Linked DNA regions of Homo sapiens. The protein of the gene in region 2 interacts with the protein of the main gene of each other region in a pairwise test. Each region holds a gene or a part of one and is shown on either strand. Other genes may lie near its edges.

Region 1 (7,025 bases), on a different chromosome or scaffold from region 2:
GGGGCTGGGGCTTTCCCACCCCCAGGCGGGTAGGCTGGTAAAGTCCCTGTGCCCCCCCTACTCCCTAGGCTGCCCTCAGACCTCACCCAGGCGTTGCCCTACCCAGGCATTACCTGGCACGGACTGCCTGGGCTGGCCGGGACCCTCCGGCCCCACTGGTGTTAAGGGCAGTGGCGATAGATGAGGTCCTCTGAGGCACCTGTGGAGAGAAGTCCACGTGCTGCGAGCTGGCGCTGCGACAGGCACTTCTCAGATGTTTAAGCCTCACCTCTGAGAGGTGAGCTCCCCCACTTTGATGGATGAGAAAACTGAGGTTCAGGGGAGTTAGTGAATACGTCCAGGGTTATGAAGCCGGATGATGGTGGAGCTGCGGTTCTAACTGGCAAAGTCTGCCCCTTAGCGCTCCCAAAACACCCTGGGCGTTTCTCCGTTCCCACGCTCCCCACAGGGATCGATGCCACCCCTCCACGTCGCGTCCTCAGCTGGACGGCTGACCCCGGCAGGGCAGCGCCCTGGCTTTCTCTCGCTTCCCGCCCTGCACTCTTCCTCCATGTGGCCTGCCCCTTCACTGCCCTCCTTCTCTTCATGACTAGCTCTCTGCTTTTCCCTGGGCCTGCAGAACTGTCCTTACCTTGGGTGGGGCCTCGTTATCTGGGCGGACCCAGGCTGGGGGATTCGGGCTGGGGCCAGGTCCTTCAGAGGTGGGGTCTGAATTCTGGCGGATGACAGCTCCTCGGGCACTGGGCGTGGCAGTGGGTGCGGGGATGGCAGGGTCGGGGTCATGGGAGGCTGGGAAGGCAGCCAGGTTTCGGGTGGGCTGGTCCTGCAGGGACTGGGATCGGGGTACAGGTGCTGCATATGGCTTCAGTGGGACCCGGTGTGCCACCAGGCTCTGCAGGGAGAGACCAGGGAGGGTGGGCTGCCTGCTCCATGGCACATCCCCACCTGCGAATTGGGGTCTGGGGTGGGAAAGGACTTTAGCTGCCCCTTCCTCCATTGAAGGACAAGGGGTTCCTTGAGCCTGATGACAGCTAAGTCAGGACAGACACAGGCAGCAAGAAGCAGGTGAGTGAGTCTGTCCACAAAGCCTGTGCTCTGTAATCCTGGCTCACGGCTGAGCAGGTGTGTGTGTGTGTGTGTGTGTGTGCGCGCGTGTGTGTGTACCTGTGCTCTGAACAAAGCTCCCTGTGTCTTCATTAAGACAGGGGTGGGGAGAGACTCACCTTGTGCGGTCCCTCCTGGGGCTCCACCGGCCTCTGCATAGGAGGAGTCTGGGAAAGGGGTCCTGGGGGCCCTGGGGAGGCCTGGGGGATGGGGGGCTCAGGCCCCGTGCTGCCTGGCTTGCTCTTGGCCAAGGGAGAGTTCTGCTGCTTGTTCATCCTTGTTCTCTCTTCTACCTGTGATGTGAAGGGATGTCAAGCAGGCCAGCTCTTGCCTCCCTGTTCTCAAAACTGAGGGTCCCACCTGCCCTAACTACTCCCGCCCTATGCTCTGTGCTGTGTGCTCCTTTCCCCTACTTGGTGCCTGCTACTGTGAACTACTACTTCTTGTGGCTCTCCAGGCCTCAGGCAGTGGGACTGCAGTCTCAGGAGGCAAAGGAGGCAGTGAGTACCTCTCGGGCCCAGGCTGGTTTGTCAGCGGGATTCATGCCCCGACCATAATGGTACAGGGGCTTCCTGTCCCCAGGCAGGAGCTGCTGCTGCTGCTGTTTCTGAAGCTGCTGCTGCTGTTGCTGCTGCTGCAGGGACTTGAGGTAGGCATGCTCCTGCTGCAGCTGCCTCTGGAGACGTTCTGACTGCCGCTGCTCCTCCAGCTGCTTCCGCTTGTATTCCTGGGCCCAAGGGTAGGGAGAGAGGGCTCAGCAGGGTGTGGCCCTGGGAGTTAGAGCAGGCATGCCCTCTCTTTTCTCCAACTGCCTAGAGAGGAGATGTATTCCCTTGATGTCCTGGGTGAATCCCTTCCCTTGAAGTGTTCCCATCCCGTTCCAGCAAAGAAGCTCTGAAAAGCATCTTCCCAGAGGACGCTGAGGGACCCGTTACCAGCAGCAGGGCCTGTTCCTGGAGCAGCTGTTGCTGAAGGATCTCGAGCTGTCGCTGCTCCTCCTCTAGCCTGTGACGAATATATTCCTGGGGGACGGGGTGTGGGGTGGGGGGCAGAGGGCAGGGAAGGAGGAAGAGGCAGAGGAGGGCAGCAGCAGCGAGTTGGAGAAGGAGGAAGGGATCCGCAGGAGAATGAGGGGGTGCAGGGGAAGAGTAAGAGAGAGGTAGGGGAGGGGATGACATGAGCCCCAGGGGGCCATGCGGCACAGATGGGGAAGAAGAGGGCACAGGGAATGAGGGGGGATGAGGAAGGGGTCGGGGAGTCAGGGATGGGGTAAAGAGATGGGAATGAGGCAGGGAAGGAAGAGGGAGGGGGTCAGGGTTGGGGTTGAAGGGTGGGAGAAAACAGAGAGAAAGAGTGAAGCTAGAAAAGATAGGAGGAATCTGGGGGTGGGGGAGAGAAGGGGGAAGGGCACGGGGAGCAGGGGCGGCAGGCAGCAGGAGCGGGAGGGCGGGAGGGCAGGGATGCGGGTGCGGCGCTCTACCTGCTCGCGCTCCGCCTGCCGCCGCTCCTCCTCCCGCCGCAGAGCCTGCATGTCCTCCAGCCGCCGCTGCTGCTCCTTCTCCTGCAGCTTCCGCTGCTCCCGCTCCCGCCGCTGTTGCTGTGGGGAGAGCCAGGTGGTCTTAAGAACCATACCGGACATCGCGTCAGCACTGCCCCTCCATGGACAGGGAGGGGAGCCCTCCTTGCTCACCACGGAGGGTGGTAAGAGAGACCGGCTTCCGCTTGTTTCTGCAACTATACCCATCCCCACCCAAGGGCCCGCGGGGCTGGGCTCGGGTAAACAGCCGGTAGCTGTGACGAGAGAGGCTGTGAGACTGACTGCTGCCTGTGGGGTGGGCTTAGCTAGACAACACCTTCCACTCCCCACACCCCACCAAACAACAAACCAAAGCCGAACTCAAAACAAGCCTCCCCAGCACTCCTAGCCTAAAATCGACCTTTGCCTGAAGTCCATATAGAGCGGGTCGTAGTGATAGCCTTTGGCCACAAGAGGGCACCAGGTGCCCGTGCACAGAAAGCACAGAAAAGAGGGACCTGGCCCACTCCTTGACAAGCACCAGTGCCCAGGTGGTACTTTACTTTCACGGTATTTCTGTGGTGGCTTTCACGAAGTCTACCACCACCACCACCAACAAAAGCACAAACCCTGAGGGACCCTTACACTTGAGGGAACTTGTGCCTACTTCTGCAATGAAGTTGCCAGCAGGCCTTCTCCAGGTAACACCTTGTTAGATAGGACTCTGTGGCTGGGCGCGGTGGCTCACACCTGTAATCCCAGCACTTTGGGAGGCCGAGGCAGGTGGATCACCTGAGGTCGGGAGTTCGAGACCAGCCTGACCAACATGCAGAAACCCTGTCTCTACTGAAAAAAATACAAAATTAGCCGGGCGTGGTGGCGCATTCCTGTAATCCCAGCTCCTCAGGAGGCTGAGGCAGGAGAATCACTTGAACCTGGGAGACGGAGGTTTTGCGGTGAGCCTAGAGTGCGCCACTGCACTCGTCACCCTGGGCAACAAGAGCAAAACTCCATCTCAAAAAAAAAAAAAAAAAAAAGATAGGACTTTGTTACTATACTATCTGAACGCTATATTTATTTTATTTTTTTATTTTTTGGAGACGGAGTCTTGCTCTGTTCCCCAGGCCAGTGGCGTGATCTCAGCTCACTACAACTTCCACCTCCCAGGTTCAAGCGATTCTCCTGCCTCAGCCTCCTAAGTAGCTGGAACTATAGGCGCGTGCACCACCACGCCTGGCTAATTTGTGTATTTTTAGTAGAGATGGGGTTTCACCATATTAGACAGGCTGGTCTCGAACTCCTGATCTCACGATCCGCCCCCATCCTCCGACTCCCAAAGTGCTGGGATTACAGGCGTGAGCCACCTCACCTGGCCTATATTTTCAAAACTGCACAAGGCTCTTCTGTAGCAGGTTTTCTTGCAAATTATTTTTTGTTCAACAATGAGAGGGCCTACTTTGGAGGTAGCAGGTGGACAGTGTGGGTGCTGCGGGTTATTGCTTATTATTATTAGAGACGGAGTCTTGCTCTGTCACCCAGGCTGGAGTGCAGTGGTGTGATCTCTGCTCACTGCAACCTCCGCCTCCCGGGTTCAAGCAATTCTCCTGCCTCAGCCTCCGGAGTAGCTGGGATTACAGGCATGCGCCACCACACCTGGCTAATTTTTGTATTATTAGTAGAGATGGGGTTTCACCATGTTGGCCAGGCTGGTCTCAAACTCCTGACCTCAGGTGATCTACCCACCTCAGCCTCCCAAAGTGATGGGATTACATTTTGTGTTAAGTCCAGCTCATCATGAAATTTGAAATCATATAATTGTTTCAACAGAAATGCCATTCATTTAAGGCATTTTAAAACCTGTTCTCCAAGGCCCTAATGGACCCGGGGCAGGTCAGGAGGAGGCCGCGCCAGGCCTGGGCCCTTCGGAGACAGCCCACCTCCTCCACGCGGCGCCGCTCCTCCTTCTGCTCCTCTATGCGCCGCTGCCGCTGGTGCAGCAGGTGTTTGATGTGTGCCTCGGGGTCTCGCTGCTGCTGCTGCTGCAGCTGCTGCTGCTGTTTTAAAGCCTCTGAGTTGCTCTTATTTTCCTGCTGGAGCCGGAGAAACTCCCGGCGTAGAGTCGACTCTCCAGGCACGTTCATGATGGAGCTGGGCAGGGGTGGCACAAAGAAGCACTGGGGTCAGAACCCTGTTGGTTCCCACTCTCAACCCCGTGGGCCCGCCTGAGTGGGTGCTTTAACTGGATCAAAGCCTCTGCCTCTGGCCACTCCCAGGTGGCCAGGAGACTTACCGTCCCCTTCTGCCCAGTCTTCAGTCCTGTCCTCCTTTCCTATTACTGCTGCGCCCCACATTCACCACAAATTGCTCTCTCCCCAGCTCTTGCTCAGTCATTGGTTCCACTTCTTAGCACTCAGAAATTTGGTTTCCAGGAGTCTCTACCTCTCTGTGCCCACCACCCCCAGGCTGAGAGTCCCCAAAGCCAAGCACCACTGTAGTCCCCCCACTCAGCGATGACCGCCCCAACCCCCACTCCACCTGCCAGGCCTACCTTGGCTCTCCTTCCTCTCCATGGCTGTCATCTTCCTCCTCGCTGCCGCTGTACTCATATTCTGTCTCCTCTGCAGGGGGAGGCCACTGCAGTTATCTCACCCAGCGCCCCAGACCCGCCGTGGGCTAGGGAAACCTTGGGTGGGGATAACCAGGTCTCTCTGGCTGGGCAAGCATGAGGGGCCCCACCCACTTCCTGGGGGCAATGGGAGGACAGCGGGTCTCAGGTGTGGGCCTGGACAGGACCGGGACTGGGTCCCAGGGCAGCTGAGGTGTGGCAGAGCCTGTGCTTGTGCTCGCACACACATGTGCTTAGCATGGAGTTTTTGTAAGGATGCGAAAGGCCGGTCCTCCTTTGGAAGGCTGATTCAGACTGGGAGGGAAAGGAGGGAAAACCCCTTGGGGGTTGCAAGTTTGAGAACGATCTCCTTGGACAGGGAGAGCTGGGGCCAAGGAGGGGAGCAGGAAGGGGTGCCAGGAGCGAGCAGGGCTGGCAGAGAGGAGCCAGGCTGGAGTGTCCCCTAGTACCTGCCCCCTCCAGCCTGCCCACTGACCTTTCTCACCCCGCTTCTTCCGGGATCGGTCAATGTGGTCCTTAAGCTGGATGCGGACCTGCCGCTCCGTGGGCTGGTCCCGGATGAAGGGAAACTTCAGTAGCTGCTCCGTGGGTGGGCGGCTCAGGTAAGTCTTGATGAGACATGTGTCAATGAAGTCAATGAACTTCTTAGACCTGGAAACAGTGGTGGCTCACACTGGGAGGGTCCCCTCAGAAGGGATGGGTGCAGGAGGAAGAGGGTGGATCATTCATCCACAAGCCACCTTGACGTCCCTCCTGTCTTCATATCCCAACACCAGTCACCGCCCTCTGCCCCCCAGAATCTCTTCTCTGGTGAGATCCAAGCCTGAGCACAGAGGGCATGAAGGTGGGGATGGCCTTGTCCAGGGACCTTCCTTCCCAGAGCCCACACTCTCAGAGACCTACCACTTCTTGGACTTGAGCCTGGGCGGAGGGTTCCGAGGAATGAGGAAGAGGGCTCGCATGGGGTGCATGTCACACAGAGCTGGACACAGAGGAGACACCCTCAGTCCCTTTCACTGCACTGGGAGCTACAGGACCCTTCCTCGGCAGGGTCCCAGGACCCACCTCCTCCCTACAGCCACTCTCTGGGCCCTTCCTTTCCCTCCCCTCCCACTCCCGGCAGACTCAGAACTTACGGGGGGCTCCCTCTGCCATCTCGATGGCTGTGATTCCTAGAGACCAAATATCACTCTATAGACGGGAAAGAAGGAACAAGTGAATATTCCTGACAACTCTGCCCTGCAACCTCTCTTCACCCACCATCCTGGCCTCTCAGGAGCCTTCCTGGGCCACACCCATTCCTGCAGCAGTGCCTTCCAACCCATCCCATCTTCCCACCCACACTTGCCTTGCCGTAAGATGTTCCCCAGCCCCTCACTGCTAACATCATCTGACCTTCCTCTGTTCCCCAGCCTGCTCAGGCCCCGTGGTCCCCATATTGCTTCCCGCCCTTGGCAGCCCCCATGCTCCCAACTTTCCACTCCATACCCTGTAATCATAGGTGGCATCAGGGTTCTCATCACAGGCGATGACCTCTGGAGCCATCCAGTAGGGAGTCCCAATGAAAGTGTTCCGTCTGCCCACGGTGCGGTCCAGCTGAGCACTCACCCCAAAATCCACTGTGAAGACACAGAGGGAGGGGTCAGTGTGGGGAGTCACCTCTGCTCCCTTGCCTCACATCCCTGCGTGCACACACAGGACTTGCCTGAGCCAGCTGTGGTCCTGGCCCGACCCAGACACCCCAGCACCCTCCTTTACCCCACCACCATCCTGAAGAAC
Region 2 (7,025 bases):
GTTTGGGGTTTTAATTCTGATCAAACCCTTGTGAAAGCCTCCATTTTCTGTGGCAAAGCAGGTGAATTAACAAATTCTAAAGCCAGACTATATTTTTACATAACCTGTTCTGAGTTTTGCTCTATCAAGGATTGAAGCATGAGTTAGTTCCATGTCACAAATTAGAATAACAGCTACAATTAAGCATCAATTTTGAAAAACAGAAATGTGTTAGCTGAGCAAAGAATCTCCCTGTAATGCTGTTGGCAGGTCAGCTGTTATTATCTTACTTGACGGAATACATTGGTTAGAAGCTCTATCCCATTTCCTGAAATTCAGTACTCTTGTAGGAAAATATTTCTCCTTTACTTATTTTTTTAAAGAAGACAAAATATTTTAATTGTAAGTGGTCAGAGGAATTCTTCTGGTTTCTCCCTTATGGTTATTTTTAATTTGTACAATAGTTGCTTCTGTCAACTCAGCGACAATGCCATCATAGCTTTCAAATGAGATCACCCTGTAGATCGATGGACTATGCCTTAAAGTTGCAGATGCATAAAGGAGACTGAGGACAAATGGTGAAAACTGTAGTTACTGAACCCAAATGTTACTCAGAGATATCAACTGACAATCACTGCTCAATTCTGAATAAGGGCTGCAGTTCTCTGTAGATTAACACCACGCATTCTGCAAGTTCTGCAGTGGAGTAGGCGAGTTTTCTATCACCTACGACATTGGGCAAATCCCATCCAGGACAGCCATATTTGGATGCTATTGTATGTTACATGCAGAACAGCATGGGTCATCTTTGTCAGGCTGAGCAGCATAGTTCATCTGCCTCACAATTTCTGCAAAGAGTTCGTCCACCATTGTTTTACTCTTAGCGGAAGTTTCCATAAAGGGGCAGCCCCACTCTTCAGCAAGGGCTCTGCCTTCGCTGGACGATACTTCTCTCTCACTTTCCAGGTCCACTTTGTTCCCAACCAAGATGACTGGCACTTTCTCATACCTATGAGAGAATAAACAAAACACACATACATTGTAACAGTTAGCACAAAGTTAAACAGGTCACGTGTATTTTCGTTTTTGGGGGCTATTCCAACATAAATGGTATCTTCAGTTGCATGAAAATGATTTGTACCACTTGGCTTGATACTTAGATCTGAGGGCATTTGAAGCTGCTCTCACAGTGGATGATAAAATGAGTTTTATGAAATGATGTTTTAATTAATCAATTATATATCCTTTAAAATCAATTTACCTTTCCAGATATACTTGGAAAATTATTCTCAGAAACTCAGACTAAATCCTCTTTTTTTTCCATTCTGAGAGAGGGTTGCACAAAATTTCACAGTTGATCACACAGTAAATAGCTACAATGAGTAAACAAACAACTTATAATTATCAGCATTTTACTATGTTCTATGTGTATAAAATTGATCATGTTCATACAAAAATCAGCTGGGTGTGGTGGCAGGTGCCTGTAGTTCCAGCTACTCGGGAGGCTGAGACAGGAGAATCGCTTGAACCTGGGAGGCAGAGGTTGCAGTGAGCTGAGATCGTGCCACCGCACTCCAGCTTGAAAAAATGATCATGTTCGTTCTAATAGTTCTCAAACAAGAAAAAAGGTAGTAGAAATCATCCAAATGGAAGCTATCAAATACAACCACACCCCATCCCTTCAGAAAACTTTTATGGATTAGTCAGTTCAAAGAGAAACAATTAGGATTCTTTTAAGACTGACAAGAATTCAGCCTCAATTAGCTTTAATTGGTGTTATTTCTCTTTTTCTTCCTAACTAAAATAGGTATCTCTGAGTAAACACGTTTGGAAAAAGCTAAACTAATAAAAATAGTAAGTGATAAGAAAGAACAAAGAAAGAAGCTCCTAAGTCATTTTGGTGCCTAAGATGATTGTCTCTACAATGGTTACTCCATGTAGCACATTTCACAACAGATGTCAACACTGGTGCTGGACTGCACATTTATTTACTATTCTTCTTTATGTTTGTTCTAAGAAAGATAGCTAATATATTTTCACAAGACATTTTAAAAGGTTTTTGTGATTTTAGTATAAATCTGTGTGTGTGTGTGTTTGTGTGTGTGTGTCTTCCCATAAGCAGAATGTATTTCTGATTTAAAGGAGCTAAACAGCAAGATCGCACAAAAGTGATAACAAATGTGACTGGAAACAGCTAAATCTGTCAGAAGAGAAAACCACCCCATGGTCAAGCCTTTGAGGCAGGATGCATAGACAATTTTTATCATTCAGGAAACTGGATAATAGGCAGGTGGTTATTGTTCGCTATGATACTTCCACAGATTTCTTCATCCTGTCAAGAGGGTTCTCTCCACTCATCCTAACTTGTAAAGCAAACCAAATTCCCAACATTCTCACTTTTTTTCTTTGACACTATATCAAACTAAGAATGGTCTCAACAAGAGGGCATACTCCAGGTAGTGTGCCATTTGGCAATGTGAAACATGAAAACAACTTAAAAATGAGTGGAAGGAACAACATCAAAGGCAAACCTAGAATTTGGATATTATCATTTTATAGGAAATGAATTTGGACAACTTCAATTTATATCAAAGGACTTTATATAAATTTACTGTACACTACTGTACCTTACGATTTCGGGCCTTAGATCATGCTGACAGCTCTGAACATAAGACACAAGGGTTTTTAACATCTTCTAGGACTCTTACATACAAACAATTTGTGCATCCCATGGCCTCTAGGAGGGCAAGTGGCAGTGAGAATAAAGCTGCATTACAAAACACCATGTATTTGCTACTTTGCATATAAACTCTCTTGATTGGCTATACAGAGAAGCTTGGCAGGGAGCAGACACTGCCAGCCATGTCAGGACAATGTCAGCTTCCAATTTGTGTTACTTGCAAAATGTAATTACATTTCGTTTTTCTTATGAAAGTATATACATCACAGTGTACTTTAAAATGCTTTGCTTGACAGTGGAGTAACTTAAAAACATTAATAAAATTAAGTAAAACATTGGTTGAATTTAAGTTAAAACAAATTTCAGTCTGTCTATGAATAATAAAAAGTGATAAGATCACTTTCTATTAGTTGAGATAAATGATAAATATTTTAAAGAATGTTTAAATACAATATATATAATATATAAATATATATATAAATATATATATAAATATATATAAATATATAAATATCTATATAAATATATAAATATAAATATATAAATATATATATATATATATTTTTTTTTTGAGACGGAGTCTCGCTCTGTCTCCCAGGCTGGAGTGCAGTGGCATGATCTTTGCTCACTGCAAGCTCCGCCTCCCGGGTTCACGCCATTCTCTTGCCTCAGTCTCCTGAGTACCTGGGACTACAGGCGCCCACCACCACGCCCGACTAATTTTTTGTATATTTAGTAGAGACAGGGTTTCATCGTGTTAGCTAGGATGGTCTCGATCTCCTGACCTCGTGATCCGCCCGCCTCAGCCTCCCAAAGTGCTGGGATTACAGGCGTGAGCCACCGCACCCAGCCTGTATCATGTTTTATATGTGAAATATTTCTTACACTTTTAGTTAAGTTCAGGATCTACTAGAATATGTGGATTTTCAAAACTTGCAAATAAATCAAATTATTAAGTTGTATTGATACATTATTAAAATCAAGAATTTGAATAAATCTTACCATCAACCTAATTCTCAAAACAGTAAATAAAATATTGCAAACACAGTTCCACATATAACAGCATTTAATAACTGGTAAATGTAGATGAAAATGCAGTCAGTATCAGAGGACCTGTTTATTATATCACTAACTTGTCAGTGGCCTTTTCTAAAATCAAGTTTCTAAAGACACTAGAGAAATCCACATTAATATCCTCAGAAGATTTTTAAACTGAGTACGATGTTGAGAAAAATTATGTACATTTCAGAATACCAGACGGTGATAAATTTTGTCTCTCTGTTAAAATTTGGGACAGTAGAAAAGATTCTACACCCAGATTTGGAGGCTCTGCTTCCAGTTCTGCCAATGAGATCATTTCCTTTACATATCTGTATTTCATTTCTTTGATAGTAAAAAGGGAGTAAGAGTATCTGTTCCCACTTAACACAGGGTTGCTGTAAAGGGCAAATGAGATAATGCTGAAAAAAATGAAGTACTAGATAAAAGGAGGGTGCTTGCTTCTTTCCCCTCCTAACTCTAGTGATGTGGCCTTGAGAAGCCACAAAGGGTGAAGAAGGAGCCGGAGAAACTGATCAAAGGAGGTAAAGAACTCCTGAGGGCAAACCGAGTTGAGGGTGAAGCTGGAGGAAGAGACAGGCAAAAAAGATGGGAGTCAAAAACAACAAAGCAGCCACCAGACACTAACCAGGTGCTTCTCCAGAGTCCCTGTGCTGAACATCCATGGTGATGGGGGCCTAGGAAAGCAGAAAAGCAAGCATTCCCAAACAGCGGGCACTCGAGAGAATATACTGGCCCCTGTGGGAAAGGCATTCTAAGAAGGCTCTGGATTGGGGTGACAGAATAGGGTCCCATATGAAGGTAACATTTGGAGAAATCTGGATCCTCCTTAAGAAAGATGGGTGAGACGCTGAAGGGAAAGAAGCCAAGACCTGTGTTGACAGTAGATGACTGCACTGCATGAGGAAGCTGGTGTTGCTATCTGTTTTAGCAATATGGTGGGTTTAAAAAAAAAAGAAACCAAACAGACTAGGACTCCTGTCCCAGAAGGGGCTGCCTCTAGCTAGTACTGTGAATTTAGAAGATTAACCTAATCTTGGTTTCCTGAGTTTCTTGAAGTATAAAATGAGCTGGACTGGATAATTCCTAAGATACTCTGAAGTTAAAAATCACAACAGACATGGTGGGTCACACCCACAGTCAACACATATCATTGACTAGGTTAATTGCTGAGTGCTTAGCACTGTTCTAAGAATAACGTCCAACAGGCTGATCTTTAAGAGATATGAAAGTGTGCATCAGGAGTAAAGCCAAAAATGTTGGGGGAAATCTTATGAGATCTCATGGGGCCAAAACATAAGCAGGAGGTTTCACTTCTACAAGCGGAGCCACTACTGCCAGCATGCTCTGACTCAACAGCAGAACTCCAAAATGCACTCATGACCTAGGCAGTTCCATTTCACAGACAACGTTGTTCAAACACAAATATTTGGGATGGTTTTAACTACGTGAATACTGAAGGCTATACTGAAAACTGCCTGATGTGGCATAAATAGCTAGTAATGAACAATCGAACAATCAATACATCATGTACTTATCCATCCACTCAACACATATTTATATACTAAGTGCTAGCCACTATTCTAGACACTTACATCAATGGACAAAGCAAATAAAGCTCTGTAATTAGCAGAGGGCGCAGACATCAACAATAAACATAACAAGTCAATTCTGGGTTTACAATAAAAGTGTTAAGTGCAATGGAAAAAAAGATGTGGATCAGGTGGTGGGTGGGGAGCACAGGTGCCACAGTTTTAAATAAGATGATCCCAGGCCTTGTTGGGAAAGTGGCTGTGAACAAAGATGGGAAGGGTTTCTGGGAATCTGCTCCCTACCGTGCAGGTTCTAGGGGAAGAGCATTCTAAGCAGGACATGCCCTAGACAATGCCTGAGCCGGCGACAGCATGCCTGTCAGTGCAGGGACCAGCTGTGGGATCCATCTCTACAGCCTCCTGCAGGACTCTGGCAGTGGAGGAAATGCTCATTTGAAGCTAGACCTCAGGAATTCGGGTGCCAAAAGTGGCCTCAGAAAACAAATCTGGCACTTATGACAGACTGACTTAGAGGGCTGACTCTGTTATTTAGGAAGATGAGGTGCTTTGTTAGTGGGTGATGACAGTTACTTTCATGTTCTATTTTCATTATCAGTTTTGCAGGTTGCCTTCATTTTCCCCCTTTTCATCATTTCCCCCTTTTCATCATTTCTTCCTTACCCCCTTTTCATCATTTGGACATAAAGCTAAAGATGCAAAATTCTCAAACTGTTCAATGTATGTGTTATTGTTAACCTGATCATGAGTAAGATACCACCTTGCTTACATCTTAAACATCAGCAGATATCTCACCAACTTCAGCCCATCTTCCTTGAAATTTCCTTTAAGGGCATGACCAGCTCAGACGGTGACTGATGCAGGTCTAATAATTTTATTTCTGTGTGTAGTCTGTGGACAAACACTTTTTTATTGACAAGAATTTCCATAGTGTTGACTGTATTCATGAACCTGATTATAAATGTATAAATAAATAAAACTAGTTCTTTTAAGCAGCTCTGCTTAATGGACTGAATGAAACATCAGAAATACTGGCTGTAGCATCACTTAGCTGTAGAATGTTAATGGGCTTCTCACCGAGACAGCTTTTTAAAATATCAGTAACTCAAAAGAACTTGATGTGTTTATCAAAATACTTTATTTTGCTTTCTCCTTTCTTGTAACTGTCCTGATATGTAGGTATGTATACGTATATATATTTTATTCTGGTCGTGTCTGAACTTGGCTGATCATCAACACAACTTGAGAATTCTTTTAAAGATAGTGATTTCTGGGCCCTATTCCAGAGCTAGTTAATCTAAATCTGTGGGATCAGGACCCAAGAGTCTATTAAAATATGTAATATGTCTATATCTATAAGCTCTGAAGATGGATTCTGAAGTTCAGCAGGGTTTAGGAATCACTGGCCTAATCTACTACTTTGTGACCCCAAACAACATTCTATGTGTATAGTTCATGGTTCCATATGCGGCAAGTCCAGACTCAATTCCTTCTTCCCTTCATTTATTCACCAATGATAAACTGTAGACAGATACCACTACTGTCAGTTTCTGTACTTTACTTTTGAGGGTGCTGCATCGTAGCGTATTTAAAGAAGGTCATACTTCATGTGAATTTTAACATGCTGGTATCTTCTTAGTGATAAGCAGGTTGAAATATAATTCTCTTTGAATTTGGAAATGAGAATCAGAAAGGCTTTTCTAAGTCCCCTCATTCATCTTTTCACACAGTTAAAATCATCTACCAAGAGAGTCCCA

Evidence for each region. The genes of interacting proteins can lie anywhere in the genome.
Region 1: the proteins of RAP2A (region 2) and MINK1 interact in binary tests that used the Homo sapiens proteins (3 or more experiments, as listed by UniProt).

What each region holds. Positions count from the first base shown.
Region 1 is NC_000017.11:4,885,323-4,892,347, reverse strand, and holds part of MINK1 (misshapen-like kinase 1), read right to left. Parts: intron 6,866-7,025; coding exon 6,735-6,865; intron 6,438-6,734; coding exon 6,383-6,437; intron 6,229-6,382; coding exon 6,150-6,228; intron 5,898-6,149; coding exon 5,722-5,897; intron 5,239-5,721; coding exon 5,169-5,238; intron 4,769-5,168; coding exon 4,558-4,768; intron 2,702-4,557; coding exon 2,585-2,701; intron 2,127-2,584; coding exon of another isoform or gene 2,040-2,126; intron 1,832-2,039; coding exon 1,613-1,831; intron 1,398-1,612; coding exon 1,224-1,397; intron 893-1,223; coding exon 632-892; intron 200-631; coding exon 114-199; intron 1-113. UniProt on the Homo sapiens protein: Serine/threonine kinase which acts as a negative regulator of Ras-related Rap2-mediated signal transduction to control neuronal structure and AMPA receptor trafficking.
Region 2 is NC_000013.11:97,458,168-97,465,192, reverse strand, and holds part of RAP2A (ras-related protein Rap-2a), read right to left. Parts: intron 989-7,025; coding exon 751-988; 3' UTR 1-750. UniProt on the Homo sapiens protein: Small GTP-binding protein which cycles between a GDP-bound inactive and a GTP-bound active form. In its active form interacts with and regulates several effectors including MAP4K4, MINK1 and TNIK.